Homo sapiens: one gene and its partner. The protein of the gene in region 2 interacts with the protein of the main gene of each other region in a biochemical or structural test. Each region holds a gene or a part of one and is shown on either strand. Other genes may lie near its edges.

Evidence for each region. Proteins that work in one complex are often made in the same cells at the same time.
Region 1: the proteins of SKAP1 (region 2) and FYB1 form a complex in vitro, tested with the Homo sapiens proteins (2 studies listed by BioGRID and IntAct, with this or other methods).

What each region holds. Positions count from the first base shown.
Region 1 is NC_000005.10:39,195,035-39,202,915, reverse strand, and holds part of FYB1 (FYN-binding protein 1), read left to right. Parts: coding exon 1-1,090; intron 1,091-7,881. UniProt on the Homo sapiens protein: Acts as an adapter protein of the FYN and LCP2 signaling cascades in T-cells. May play a role in linking T-cell signaling to remodeling of the actin cytoskeleton. Modulates the expression of IL2. Involved in platelet activation.
Region 2 is NC_000017.11:48,426,762-48,435,144, forward strand, and holds the start of SKAP1 (src kinase-associated phosphoprotein 1), read right to left. Parts: upstream 3,454-8,383; 5' UTR 3,360-3,453; coding exon 3,314-3,359; intron 3,172-3,313; exon of another isoform or gene 2,849-3,171; coding exon of another isoform or gene 2,825-2,848; intron 1-2,824. UniProt on the Homo sapiens protein: Positively regulates T-cell receptor signaling by enhancing the MAP kinase pathway. Required for optimal conjugation between T-cells and antigen-presenting cells by promoting the clustering of integrin ITGAL on the surface of T-cells.

The DNA.
Region 1 (7,881 bases), on a different chromosome or scaffold from region 2:
GTCAATAGCCGACCCTTCAGAGTCACAGGGCCAAACTCATCTTCAGGAATACAAGCAAGAAAGAACTTATTCAACAACCAAGGAAATGCCAGCCCTCCTGCAGGACCCAGCAATGTACCTAAGTTTGGGTCCCCAAAGCCACCTGTGGCAGTCAAACCTTCTTCTGAGGAAAAGCCTGACAAGGAACCCAAGCCCCCGTTTCTAAAGCCCACTGGAGCAGGCCAAAGATTCGGAACACCAGCCAGCTTGACCACCAGAGACCCCGAGGCGAAAGTGGGATTTCTGAAACCTGTAGGCCCCAAGCCCATCAACTTGCCCAAAGAAGATTCCAAACCTACATTTCCCTGGCCTCCTGGAAACAAGCCATCTCTTCACAGTGTAAACCAAGACCATGACTTAAAGCCACTAGGCCCGAAATCTGGGCCTACTCCTCCAACCTCAGAAAATGAACAGAAGCAAGCGTTTCCCAAATTGACTGGGGTTAAAGGGAAATTTATGTCAGCATCACAAGATCTTGAACCCAAGCCCCTCTTCCCCAAACCCGCCTTTGGCCAGAAGCCGCCCCTAAGTACCGAGAACTCCCATGAAGACGAAAGCCCCATGAAGAATGTGTCTTCATCAAAAGGGTCCCCAGCTCCCCTGGGAGTCAGGTCCAAAAGCGGCCCTTTAAAACCAGCAAGGGAAGACTCAGAAAATAAAGACCATGCAGGGGAGATTTCAAGTTTGCCCTTTCCTGGAGTGGTTTTGAAACCTGCTGCGAGCAGGGGAGGCCCAGGTCTCTCCAAAAATGGTGAAGAAAAAAAGGAAGATAGGAAGATAGATGCTGCTAAGAACACCTTCCAGAGCAAAATAAATCAGGAAGAGTTGGCCTCAGGGACTCCTCCTGCCAGGTTCCCTAAGGCCCCTTCTAAGCTGACAGTGGGGGGGCCATGGGGCCAAAGTCAGGAAAAGGAAAAGGGAGACAAGAATTCAGCCACCCCGAAACAGAAGCCATTGCCTCCCTTGTTTACCTTGGGTCCACCTCCACCAAAACCCAACAGACCACCAAATGTTGACCTGACGAAATTCCACAAAACCTCTTCTGGAAACAGTGAGTTCTTTTCTCGTTTGCTATTCAGTATGGTTTACTCCAAGGCAGAGAATGTTTTAGCTTCTGGGGAAAGTTTTGTAACAAGGAATGATTCTCTATATCTGGTACTCATATGTGTATAATGAATTTTCTTTGTCTTGTTTTTTTCTTTCATGTGGGAGGTCTGGGAAAGTAGGAAGTCTTCATTCTGTGAGAAAATGCCTTGGTCAGCTGGGGTTTTGTTGGGGGAAGGGAGAGGGAATGCATCCACTTCATTGATACGTGGTTTTGCTTAATGATAACCATTGTATTTACTTCCTTTGTTGGGTTTCATTTCTGTTGAATGAGACTGAGGTATGTTACCCCTATCAACACAGAGGAGTTAGACAGAAAATGAGCTATCCTGTAGGTCAGCAGTTCCCAAAGGGAACAATTTTGACCCCCAGGGGACATTTGGCAATGTATGGAGGCATTTTTGATTGCCACAACTGGAGGGTGCTACTGGCCTCTAGTGAGTAGAAGCTAGGGATGCTATTGAACATCCTACAATGGCCAGGACAGTCCCACAACAAAGAATTATTCAGGCCATAATGTCAATAGTACAGAGATGACAAGCCCTCCTTTAAGTGACTGCAAATATCCACACAATTCATCATGTTTCCTAAGCCCAGTATTCAAATGAGAAAGGAGCAGTACTCATGAAATGGTACTTTGTGTTTCACATTTTAGCTATTTTCCATTTCTCAGTATAAAGTTTTCTGAACTTTTATGATTCATAAAGTAATATATAGTTAGGAAAATGAGCCAGACAAAGGAGTACTTTACTCTCCTTTCGGGTAAATAGTTTAAATTTCTACCAGAGATATCACTGCAATTCTCTTGGATGTGGTACTGAGTGACTGCATGTAAGAAGCTCACACATGCCTGAGATGATTAATATTTTAGGTAAATGATGTGCAACTGTTGTTTATTGTGAGGGGGAAACAAGATGCCTACAGGTGACCACACTACTTGTAGTCGCATCTTTCTCCTTACCGAAGTATGGTCTAGTTAAAGCAATTCTAAGCCTAAAGGTTGTTTTTCGTTTTTGCACTGTAGAAACATCTTGCGATATGTTATCTTCCTGAGTTCAGTATTCTCCTTGTTCGTAAACAGCTTAGTGATCAAGTCCTCTGCTAATTCAAACACACAGAAAGCAAGTTTGGAATGATCCCATGACCATCTGTCTTCCAGAAAGGTTCATCCTTGTTTCACATTGCATCTCCTCCTCATCTGTCATCTTGTTTCATTACCAGGTCATAATTCAGAACTATTATTTTTGTGAGACTTTCTAAAAGGTCCCTTATTTCTCTTATTTCTTCACCTCGGATAAAAAATTTAGTATTATGACCTCCATTTTATGGCTGTGACTTCACACCAGGGAAGGAGTTCTGATGTTAGGCAGAAATCCCTGGGAACTTTCTTCCATCTTTGTTTCACTCCCGCTCCAGTGTGGGTGGTGGCAGAGCATGGTGGTAACACATGTTGCCCGGTGTCACGCTTTTCAGTGAGTTGCCACAAATGCTAACCAAGTCCTCTTTCTGACTCTGAAGGCCTGACAAGGTCTGATTTTTAGTGAAGTAAAGCTACAAGGGACCCAGGCAGAACTGCAGAGCAGACGGAGTTTATCCTTGTTCTCCTTCTCCTCTCCTTTGCAACCCTCCCCTGCTCCTGAATGCTTCCTCACTGTCAGTAGCCCATGCCACAGTTCACATTTTAAATCCTGTCATCAGTGTAACCCCCTCAACATCTGATGCCTTGAGATGTATTATGCTCCAAAATGTATCCTGTTCTCTATTCATTCACCTCTTCCACAAATCAAAACTCAATCCCTCTTAATCTAGATTGACCTCATTTGATATCTGGATTAAGCAATCTGATTCATAACTTTAAACTCTGAATAATACCCCTTTAAAGCATTCACCTTTTTAAAAAGCATTTGAATTCTTTTATCTTTTAAGTAGAAATTACATTCTGACTGAAAAAGCAGTAAGTGTAAAATGGTGTACAGTGAAGCTACCTTTAACCCTTGTCTGCCACTTTCTGGGTCTTTCCAGCCCCTACCCCATAGAAACCACTCTTCTTAATTTCTTATATGTCCATCTGAAGTTTCTTTATGTTCACAGAAGCAAATATGAACATAAATACTACCCCCCACCCCGGCTTTTTACTCATGAAGTAGAATATTATGTGCAATGCTCTGATCCTTGTATTTTTAAAATAAATAAATCCTGTATATCTTTCCACATTTTAATAAAGAGTAACTGATTATTCTCTAGAGTTGCATAATACTTCAGTAAATGGGTGACAAGCTTAATCAATTTAACAATTTGTGTTGTTTCCAAAAGCGTTCTTTTGCAACAATACTGCAGAAAATAAACTCGTGTATGTGTCATAAAGTAAGCATTTATTTTCTGAACACAAAGTTTTTTAAGTCAGGTCTGCTGACTCTTGATCCTGCCACTGCTATTTTTCTTAAACAATGCTAGAAATACTAAGTAATTTACCATTTCATTTAGGAAGGTTAAAATATATCAGAATTAGAAAGTATATGTTCATTTTATATAACTGGATAAGCAATATAAAGAAAAGAATTAAATTTCTGTTGTAGCAAAATTTTTTAAAATTCTGAAATTCTATTTTTTATAATTCTGGAGTATGTAAGTAGAAAATAAATAATTATTAAATAATTAAATAATAATATACATATACGTATACATAAACATGTGGTATATTGTACGTACAGTCTTTAGATGGGAAAATTCTTTATTAAGTGTAATTATCGCCCCCATTTCACAAATGAGTGTTGAGATGTGACATAACCAAATCATATATCTGAGGCTAAAATCCAAGTCTTCAGATTGCAAGTTTAATACTTTCTCCATGTACCATCGTGCCCCTGTATGTATGTTTGCATGTTTATGTTTAAAGCATAAGTGTATTATTTATTTATATAGAATATATATGCAGATATTCCTTGACTTGTGATCGGGTTACATCCTTATAAACATTCTTAAGTTGGAAATATTATAAACTGAAAACACGTTTAATATACCTAACTACCAAATGTCATAGCTTAGCCTAGCCCACCTTAAACATGCTCTGAACACTTACATTAGCCTACAATTGGGCAAAATCATCTCACACAAAGCCTATTTTATAATAAAGTGTTGACTATCTCATGTAATTTATTGAATACTGTACCATGGTTTCTACTGAATGCATATTGCTTTTGTACCATCATAAAGTCAAGTAATCATTAATTTGAACTGTCATAAATAGGGCACCATCTGTGTATGTATACATATTATTACTAATATGTACATGGGATTTTAACTTTTTTCAAAGGACTTTCAAAATGTTTATGTCTTTTATTACTTATAATGTCCCATGAATTAGATACAGCAGTTTAATGAACCCATTTTAAACCAATGTGCAGAGTTGCCAGGTTATCTATTAGTAATGTTATTAATGGTACAGAGCCTAGCATGAGAGTTGTTTGCCATATAATGTAGACTTCAAAGTCAGTGGACCTGGGGTTTAAGCATGACTAATGTACTAGCTATGTGACCTTCGCTTTACCTCTTTCCGTGTATGTCTTTCTTCATTTGAAAAAACGAGTATAATACCACCTACTTCGCCAGCACATTATAATCACTACATGAGATTCGTTGTAAGTGCTTAATACAGAATTTGACATATAATAGTATCAAAATAAGTGAGCATTGTCTATAATTTTATTACTTTTATTAGCATTAAAATTTTATCACCAGCCCCATGATATTCTGATCATCTTATAGTATAAATCATTTTATATTATACTATATTATTCTAGGAATCATGAAACTGCATTTTACTTACTTCTGTTTGTAATATAGAAATGTATTTGTGATTTATGATGCCAGAGTCAAACAATGATTGTTGGAAGAGAGGTTTCCCACCAGAAGTCCATGAAATTTCTGCGCTCAGATGCCTCCTTCCCTACAGCAAAGGCTGGTAGAGAGCAGTAGGCGGCACCCAAGTGGCACTAGGTCACAAGTGCCCCCAGATTTTGCCATCTCCTACTGGCTGAAGCCAAGCGAAGGCATCTGACTCAGCCAAGCAGAGGTGGAGAGGCTGCAAAGCCAGTATAGATGGCTGTTATCCCAAGACACTGGTATTATCAAAGGCAGTTTTCGAAGGTCATTGTTTCCAGAGTGCATTTGCTTTCCCCATTACCTGTCAACCTGGAAGAAATAAATAAATGTGGCCAATGGATTTGCTCTGGATTATGATTGGCCACAGCTGCTTAGATTGGCAACTTCCAGGGAAAATGCTTCTTAGTGTGCTGCTACAGACCCTAAAATTTTTTGAGATTGGAGTTTTTACATGAACTCCAACAAAAAATGCCCTAAACACACCTGACTAGGCATGAATTTTCATATAACAGGGCTTCCAGATAAATTATTTGCTGCATGGTATAATTAGAAAATTATTTATTTGCTTGTAATAAAATGGGAAAGAAGAGAGATTCTATGCTTTAGAAAAAATGAGATTCTATTACTAAATATTTATTCACTAAGATTTAATAGTTATTGACGGGAGCAAAATGAAATGCCTTGCTCAGTGAATGCAGAGACTCCAAAAAGACTATTTTTTCTTGTTAGAAGTAATTATACTAGTGTTCAAATTAACAAACATTCATCTAATAACTCTATATGCCTTTTAAACTAATACTGTTTTCATAGCCTTCTACCTCATTTCTTCCTTTCCAGGTTCTCATCCAATTCTTTAAACCTCTTCCCCAGATATACCCTCCATCTCATCATCTTTGCCCAATGTATTAACTGTTAAAAATATTCATCATTTATTGAGGACTTGCTATATACCACATACACATTATGCCGTTTATTCCTCTCAAGCCATGAATAGGAATTCTATGAGTAAACTAAAGCTCAGAGAGGTTAGGTAACTTGCCCAAAGGCATAACATGACTAAACAAGGCTGGGGTCAATCTCATGTCTTTCTGATTCCGCAGACTGTGTTCCCACCCGCATTCCACTTCCTCGTGCTGGGCTGCCTCTCTTCAAACACAGAATATCACAAGACAATGAATCAAGCATAAATGAAACTCCCAAAATCCTCATTCCTCTCCCTTTCTGTGGCCTTTGGTTGAAACATGCCTTTTGTTTGTTGTCTGTTTTGTAAATACCACTATAAGCTCCATGAAGACAGAAGCCAGTCTGCTTGCCATTCTCTCATTTGGAGTACAAAAGTAATATAAATTTTTGTTAGCTTCTCAAGTTTATTCTTTCACAGAATTCTATTTAACCAGACCGGGTGCGGTGGCTCATGCCTGTAATCCCAGCACTTTGGGAGGCCGAGGCGGGCTGAACACCTGAGATCAGGAGTTCAAGACCAGCCTGGCCAACATGGCGAAACCCCAAAAATACAAAAATTAGCCAGGCATAGTGGTGCGCACCTCCCAGCTACTCAGGAGGCTGGGGCAGGAGAATCATTTGAACCCAGGAGGTGGAGGTTGCAGTGAGCCGAGATTGCACCACTGCACTCCAGCCTGGGTGACAAAGCGAACCCTATCTCAAAAAAAAAAAAAAAAAAAGAAAGAATTATATTTAACTAGAATTTATTTACTCCCAGATTTTGTTCAGTATTAGATTTTAATACTCTATAGCTTAGCAATTGTTTTAACACAATAGATAACCCCTGCCAGTAGACTTGTACTCAACTGAATGGAGCTTGGACACAAAATAAATGTTATAAGAGAGGGTCTATCTTGCAGATCTATTGAGCTCCCTTCCTTGTAAACTGTAAGCTTGACTCTAACATGTTGCTTTCTGATCATGAAGCTAAATTTTTTTTTCCTAAGAACAATTTAAGGTTACAAAAGACTAAACGTTTTTTTTAAAAAAACCCAAAATATCAAAATATTCTCTGAACTAACCTTTCCTTTGCTTCCTTTTGGGTCCTGAGCCAGTTCTGAAAGGGCTTCTTCCCATGTGTCAACACAATGCCTCACCAAAGTTTGGGTTCATAAGAATCCCTGGCCTGACTATTGGTTTGCATGTATGATTTAGTAAAAACCTGCTGGGAAATATTCAGTTTGACCCTTTTTTCTAGTCTTGTTCTTAATACTGCTGAGAGACCAAGACTGATTTTTTCCATATGTTAGCTATAGGAATGATCAGTTAAGCACCTTGACAGCAACAGGTGTAAGGCGAGGGCCCCAGAGGGCATTAACAAAAGACTGATGGCCCCCTCCTCATCTGTGTATGTATCATTTAACTAATCCAGCCTACAACAACTTGAAACCAAAAGGTGCCTGGGCTATTTTCACCAGCAAGTAACTTGTTTCCAGGAGTGGGTAAGATTTTCCTTCACAGGCCCCAAAGCTATCACCTTTCTTTTTCCCCCCATTCTCCTTTTATGTGTACTCTCTTAACATGACCTTATTAGATATTTACATATTGAAAACTGTTTTATATCAGCATGTGGCAGTATTTTCCAAATTGTTGCTCCTAGCCACCACAGGGAAAAAGGATTCTATGTTCACATTTTAGAAACGTAGCGGTAAGTGCTATTCTTTAAAGCAAGATTTCTCCAAGTATTAATATGTCACTGTGCACTGGGAACGTAAGAACATGATACAAAAAGAAGAGATCCCGGGATGCTTTGACTGAAACGGCTCACAGACTGGACTATTACAGGACACTGAATCACTGGAGGCAAAGCTCTCTCATACACAGACTGGAATTTGGAGTTGCTCAACGGCGTGG
Region 2 (8,383 bases):
GACAGAGTCTATCTAAAGAAGCTATTTCCTGAGTTACTCTAGAAACCTCACACTGTTTTGATATTTGCCAAAAATCCAAGATAGCGTGTTTTTTTTTTTTAATTTCTCCACCTTCCATACCCCTCAGGGCTAAAAAGAGAAAAACATGATCACAAGCATAGTAAATGGTCCGTTAGCACTCTGACCTCTCTGAGTTTCTATTTGTCTTTTGTTCCTTTTTCTTTTAAATACCCTTACTGTTTATTTTTTCCTGTTTACAGAAGTAATGCATGGTCATTGTCACAATTCAAACAACACAAAGATGTATGAAATAAAAATTAATAACCTCCCCTCCTCCAAACTCTCAGTCTTCTCTCAAGGAAGCCAATGTTAACAGTCTGGTATATATTCTTTTTTACTTATTCCTAGGCTTACACAAATATTTATAACATATGTGGCTTTTCTTGTTTTGTCTTTTGGTTTTCAAGCAAAAATGGGATATTACATGTACTATCATGCATTTTGCCTTTTAGTCTTAAAAATATGCCATGGACACTTTCCAAGCCTATATATAGATCCACAGAATACTCTTTTAGTGGCTGTGAAGTATTCCATGAGACAAATGTCCCATAATTCATTCAACCATCACCCTGAGTCTCCCAACTTATTAACATTTAGCATAGATCTTCGTGCATATACTACTTCATGACCTTTCACTTCAGTGACAGATTTTTAGAAGTGAGGTTTCTAGGTCGAGTGAAACATTTCCAAGTGTCTCAAATTTTATATTTAAACAAAATTAATTTTAGGCCTTGGGAATTTCTGTTCTCTTCATTATGCAAAATTTTGTTATCTACCTTTCACAATGCTTTACATATTTTATTCTTAAAAGCACACACATTATGTCAAAAAATGCCCCTGTCATTTATGCTTGTGTAGTTATAAATAAATAAATGCTTAAGTTATGGCTGTGATGTCCAGTGTTAAATCACTGTGCAAATGCTTATGCCTTGGTTTATGAAAGTAGTAATTCATTGTGGAAACCCCACCCCCACAGCCATGTGGCAGCACTAGAGTTGCAGCCCTCACATCCTGTGACTCCCTCCCACAGAGTGACTATATAGAGATCAGGACCTCCATTTTTTCTAATTGTCAACAGTTAACCTTAAAAAGTGTGTGGTGGGGGAGACAAATAGCAACAAACAACAAATTGATGGCCATTTTGGGTTTCTAATATGGACAGATTATTTGTAACACAATGAATAATCCTCCTGGTCTACACCAGCGACTGTGTTCCAAAAGAAATAAAACTTGTAACCAATATATTGCTATTATTATTACAGGAACCTTTAAAAAACATATCTTCAAACATTTTTCAATAGAATTACTGGATGAATCACACTTTACATTTTTTTCTCTACTTCAGATTCAAGTTCTAATTGCAAACTTAAAAAAAAAAGCCTTAAAGAAATACATTAACCAACGAAGCTCCTTATAATTTGGTTTCAGACTCCTCCATATATTTTAAAGACCTGAGCACCAACAGAGATTGTTAAGATACAGCAAGCTTGATACAGAAGTATGCGACATGCAATTAATCTCCATTCATACCCCGCTCTACTTGTCAGCAAACAAAGGTTCTGCTTTAGAAGGAGATCTGAAGACTTCAATTAAAAACAGTCAGCTAACAAGAAAATAATCTAAGCTAAAGGAAGGTGGCAGGTGCAGAAATGAGTTGTTTACCAAAGTGTCAGTTTTGAACAATGAAGAACTGCACATCAAAAATGCTGAAGGAATGGATTTCATTGCAAGCCTCTGAAAATAAAAAGGAATTTTCTACCAAGCCTAGACACAAAACTGAAGTATAGTTTAATAAGCTTATAAAATAGGTTTCCTCTCATCAAATGACAGATACCAATAAAAAGAATCAGTTTATATATTTCAATGCAAGGGCAGAGTTAAACTTTTTGCCACAGTCCCTTCTTTCCTAGAAACCAAAGACAATTACAGCCTTCCTTCACAAGCCTAATATTAAACCAACAACAGAGGGAAAGGCTGGATTGTTTCTTCTTAGACACCCAGATAATTCTCTTTTACCCTGCAAATAGTTTTCTACCCCCAAAATTTAGATTTATTCTGATCGTAAGTAAAACGGATTTTGGAAACCTCACCTCAAAAGAAATATCTAGCTGACAGCTTTTACATAGAAGCAATCCAGAATGGAAATAGTGCTACAGACAGAGACCAAAAGGACTTGCCAAATATTTGATTAGGAGGCATTTATACCGAGATAACAAGGTAATGGAGATATAAAACCAATTAAATTGAGAGAAACTGAAAAAAAATACTGCTTGCCAAAAATATGACCTGCCCAAAGCAGGCCGTCTGTTAAATATGTGTCAACTATGTCAACTTAGATGCCAAAAGGCTTAATTCTGAATAGTTTCCTCCTGGGAGCCTTATGCGACTGCAGATTCCAGGCCTCTGTCCTCCCTGGAAGGTTAGTTACAGGAAAGCAAGTAAAAGTGACTTCCACCACGAAACCCAGCAGATGAAACTGCCCGTTAGCAACGTCTCTTTGTGACATCTCTTTGGAGTGTTGGCAGTGTGTGTTGAGTGTTGACGGGGATGGCCGGAACTCTTTAAACCACCGCTTAGACACTGTAGTTGGAAGGTGAACACACCACAATGGGAGTTGGAAGGTGAACACACCACAATGGGGGCACTTCTAGAAAAGGAGGAAATCCCATACTGAGAATGAGCCTGCCTTGGGGTGGGTGAGACCCCTAGACGTCTGCAGGGTGATAAAGGGAGGGCTGGGGTTTTCGCACTGACAAAAACTCACGTCAACCACCTGGCCTTGGCCCATGGGGATCCCATGAGCCCCTCGCAGCCCCCTGGAGAGCCTCGGGGACCTCTAAGCAGGAAGGTTTGGGGTCTTCTGTGAGAGGTGAGGAAGTCGTGGCTGGGGAAGGAGGGGGACGGGAAACCCTACAGATGTAGGGCAGTCCTTTGGAGAAAGGGACAGGTCGGAGACCAGGCAAGGTGGCATGGGGGACCAAGAACCTGGCCTGAGGACTTTAGAAGCCGGGGAGGTGAAGTGGAGGCGTGGAGGTGCCTCAAGGCAAAAGAAGATGTGGGACTCCAGGGAGTGAAAGGGGCCCTGAGGTGAGAGGATGGAAAGCTGGCTCTAGGGAGTTGAGGGCTCTAGAAGCCTTAAGGTTCTAGAAGGAGGTGAGTGACGAAGCCGTAAAGAAAGCCTGGCCGTGGGAGGCCTGGTGTCCCCTTTCGGCCTTCGGCTCAGCACTGGAGGGGGCCTGCGCCAGGGCGTTACCTTCCAGGAGCCAACGGATCTCCTCAGGGAGGGCGGCGGCCTGCATTTGGCTGGGCGGGAGAGAGGCGGGACGGGGCGCGGGCCCTGGTCGGGAGGCGGACGGGCTGGAAGGCGACCCGGCTGCACCGCGAGGCACCTGTACCTCAGCCGCGGTCGCCGCCCGCCCAGCCCGGCCGCGGGGCGGGGCCGTGGGTCCCCGGGCGCGTCAGGAAGTGGCGCGGGCGGCAGGCGGGGACCGGAACGGGGCGCGGGGCGTGGGTGCACGTGGCGCTCACGCCGGAGCCCCACGGTAGAAGGATTGGGGGTGCCGGAAGCACCGCACCGTGCGAGGCCAAAGGTGCGCCCCTCCAGCACCCACCAAAACAAAAGACTTCACAAGGCTCAAAGGACCCACGGCTTTGGACACTCCATCCTAAGCACCGAACAGTTGACCTCACGGTGGCAGATTTGAAAGACCACGGGGTGCCTGAAGTAGGGTGCAGGGAGGCAGAATCCAAGGAAGAGATCCCCGTCAAGCATAGCACCCCTCAATTGCCGGTCCAGTTCACATCTCCATCCCCAGAAAAGAGGGCAAAACTTCGCTCTTTGGGAAGCCACAATGTTGAAAGGAAATGATTAATTCCCAATAAGCAATATAAGGACACCAACATTTGGGAGAATCGCGGCAGCGTGGCAGCAAGGGACACAGGAAACCAAACTGTGCTGTTCTCCCTCAGGATGGAAAGGCCCTGAGGAAAGGAAGGGGTAACACAGGGAGAAAGCTGAGGGAGAGGAGAACAGAGCCCTTTCCCTCCAGGAGCTGCGGAAGGGAGGAAAGTGAAGGACAAAATCACACGGTCTCATTCAAGGGACAGTTGGTGTCAGTGTCCTGGTTGTGACATGGTACTGTAATAGTGCCAGATGTTACCCTTGGGGGAAACTGGGTAAAGGTAGACAGAGTTCCTCTATTATTTCTGAAACTCTCTGTGAATCTATAATTCTCAAAATAAAGAGGTTTTTTAAGTACAATAGGTCAACTGCCATGAAAAAAGTATAAAGTGCTATGGTTGATAAAAGAAGGGAGCTGAATACCAGAAAAGGAGGGAAGAGGCCAGGCATTGTGGCTCACACCTGTAATCACAGCACTTTGGGAGGCTGAAGCAGGAGGATCACTTGAGCCCAGGAATCTGAGGTTACAGCCAACTATGATCACCCCAGTGTACCCCAGCCTGGGCAACAGAGCAAGACCCTGTCTCTTAAAAAAGAAAGAAAATAAAAAGAAGTGCCAGTGTGCATGTGAGTGTTTAAAGGTGCATGTGGTGTTTGAGATGGGCTCTGAAAAACACACCAGACTTTGAAGGGGCAGAGGACTTTCCAGGTGGAAGGACCAGAGTAAAGAAAGATGGAAGAGCCCTCACCAGCTTGAGGAATAGTTAGTAGCCCTCTTTTACTGGATGTTGTAGAAAGACTATGGTTGTCAAGATAAACTGCAGCTCTACTGTGAAGGGACTTGAAAGTCAGAATAGGAATGTTGAACTTAATTGAGAGGGCACTGGGGAGCCATTGACAATTTTTGAGATTGGGAATGACCTAACCAGAGCTCCGGGGTGGTATGTGGCCTCACACATCTCCACCTCTGCCTTTTTCCTTCTTTGTAAAAAATGGCATTTCTATTCTCAGACTCAACCTACAGAATATGTAGAAAAGATTAGGAGTGGTGGGAAAAGACACAGGGGGAAGTGGGTAAAATGGTTTTTACAACAGCCATAAGGGGAATAATGATGGACTCAATCTAGCAGACGGGGCAAGAGCAGTAAGAAGAAACCATCGAGAAGGATGAGTGTGATAAAAGTGCCTGCCTCCTTGTACTGTTTCCCATCCAGAGATACAGCCTCAAAGATGAGGGTGTGATCCTTTAAGGAGTACAGTGCATCCTGCCATCTGAAAAGCAGTGGTGCATTGGTTTCAGTGTCACATGACCCACCTACAAGCTGCAGTAAATTGGGGTGAGGGGACAGAGGCTGGCATGAGCCTCTCTGGGGTATCTGGCTCCTGCTCATCCTCCTTCCTGCCCTGAGAAAGTATAGTAATGGGTGGCTGGGCACAGTGGCTCACGCCTATAATCCCAGCACTTTGGGAGGCCAAGGCAGGCGGATCACGAGGTCAGGAGTTTGAGGTCAGCCTGACCAATATAGTGAAACCCCGTCTCTACTAATAATACAAAAATTAGCTGGGCATGGTGGTGCACGCCTGTAATCCCAGCTACTCGGGTGGCTGAGGCAGGAGAATCACATGAACCCGGGGGGCGGAGGTTGCAGTGAGCCGAGATCAGGCCATTGCACTCTAGCCTGGGTGACAGGGCAAGACTCCATCTCAAAAAAAAGAAAGAAAGAAAGAAAGAAAGTATAGCAATGGGCAGACTACCCCTTTCAGGCTTGGGATCAAGTACCAGGTACCCCCATGGCATTTTTACCAACTTCACCACTTCACCTATAAAATTGTAGCTGCTCTAGAATCATTTTGAAGTACTTATGAGGCATACTAAAAAGCAAGGAAAGATACATGGGAACTGTCTGTGCTATCATCTCAATTTTTTTTTGGTAAATCTAAACTGTTACACAAAAAATACAGCAAGGGCAGCAAAGTCTCCCCATATGTCAACCTAAACTTTGCCTTGCTTTCCTTCTTGGCAACAGAAGAAAATTTGATAACCTCCCCCTCTTCTTCAAGGATATGGTGTCACATACTAATATAAGCTACCAGCTAATGAATTGTTTGATAAAGAGCAGTAAACCCAGGTAATTGCACTTCTTTGCAGGCTTCACTGCCTGTCATAGCTTACTTACACCAAAAACTCACAGTGTACGTATTCTATATGCATCCTTCCTTACAAGAATCTCTGGGTTTTAGAGAGACAGGGGTAGAGGGAGGTGCACAGTCGGGTAGTATGTAGTGAGTGACTGGCAGATTCCAATACGGTATTGTCATGTTGCATCAAGGTTCCTCATTGCAGACAGAAATCTGCCTCCACACATGAACGCAGCCCTTCCTTAATCATCTGAGGACCCTGTTTCAGCAGTCAGCCCCACTCCTAATGACATTCTGTTAAATGGACAAATTCCTTTGAAGCCTTGTCCTTTTTTGAAATCCAATTTCGCAGGAAGCCAAATCTGATTGGGGGTAGCCATGGAAACCACATGGAGGAGTCTTAGAGGAGGTGAAGAGAGGCAAGGCAAAACGTGATAGTCACGAGTCCTTTACTGTTCTGTCAGAAATATCAAAGCAATCTGGAGAGGTTGGCAGTAGCTGAGTCCCTGCCTGGGTCCTGTTCTGTGTGGCTGGGTACTATGTGGCTGTCATGGAAGAAAGCAGCCAGCTGTCTCTGCACACAGGCAGGAGGACAGAACAGAATACACAAATCTCAGGTCTGTCTGCCTCCCTTTTCTTCCCGTCCCCCCCAGACCCAATTCCAGCAAGATCTTAGCATCCTCTTCTTAGCTGCCTGCCCCTTAAAGACAAACAACAAAAGAATGACAAGGTTAAAATACAAGGCCCTCACAGATAAGAGGTCCTTTGGAGCAGAGGCCATGAAATTAATCTGGAATTCCTTGTAATTAGATAAGATAAGGGGATCTAAAGAGATGTAGAACAGCCAGGAATGGAGTCCAGCAGCACAACATGCAGAAAACACACCGCCTTGTCCACCGGGACCCTTCACGCACTGTCAGCAGACAGAAGACACAGAAAATAGGGCCCATATTGGCCTCTGAGCTTCTTGGGAATGCTGTCTACATGTTCTCATGCCAGGTGGGCACTCGCTAAATAGGCATCTATGGGATGTCCAGAGGGACCAATCAGGAAGAAACAAAAGCATCTGGCACCCAGAATGGCATGCAGTGGGAACACAACTGCAAGCAAAGCAGGAGCTGGCTGGCACCGCTCTGCCCTGGCTGAAATGGGTCTGGAGAGGAAACTGCAGAGGGCAGGCTCTGAGGCTTTATTCTGAGCTGGTTATTGATCCCTGAATGCTGGGTCATGACATGTGGCGGAGCTGACGTCTGCCCTATGGATGTGCAGCCACTGCCTCTCAGCCTCTCGGTCCCAACCCCATCAACCGGGTTTATTGACTCTTTTATTGACAATGCTGGGGCCTAATGAGGCCAAGAGCTGCACACTTCATTAAGAGATGTGGAAGGAGAGATGATGCATCCTGTCGGTGCCAAGAACCAGGCTCACTGTATGTTTTGCAAGGCTCCAGAAACCAAGCATCATGCCACCTTGAAGGCAGAGGAGATGGACATAAGATGCTAACTTGGGCACGTTACTTCAGTGGCCTAAAAATGAAGTTTCCACGGCTTGCCAGAAGCCTTGTTCTTACCAATTAGCTAACTCTTCAACTTAGGAGGGTCCTGTTATACACACACTCACACAAATACACTTCCAATGGTCTCCCCTTCCAGCTCACACTCCTAGATTCTCTGCCTTAATACATACAACAAAATAAGCAGCTTCTCATATCACATCAGGAAACAATTCCATAAGCAGGTTCTCAGTGAGGTACAGGCTTGGAACAGTATGAGGGACTATATAAAAACTCAAAAGAATCTTCAAAGGGAGCAAATTCAAGATAAGGAACAGACCCAGCACTATACCCAGGGTCCCCCAGCTTACCAGGAGCTGTGCATTAGAATCAGGTACAAAGCTCTTGTAGAACTGAAAAATACCTAAGATAGATAGTTACAGCCTAGGGATCACTGAGCCACTCTACGAAGTCATCACTGTTGGCCCTCCTCCATCTAAATAGTAATGTTTCATTCCCAGCACTTTGGGAGGCCGAGGCAGGGGGATCACTTGAGGCAGGGGGATCACTTGAGGCAGGGAGTTGGAGACCAGCCTCGGCAACATAGTGAGACCCCTGTCTCTACAAAAAATTCAAAAATTTCAAAAATTAGCTGGGCATGGTGGCATAAGCCTGTAGTCCCAGCTACTCTTGAGGCTTAGGCAGGAGGATTGTTTGAGCCCAGGAGTTCGAGGTTGCCGTGCCACTGCACTCCAGCCTCGGCAACAAAGCTGAGACCCTGTCTGAAATAA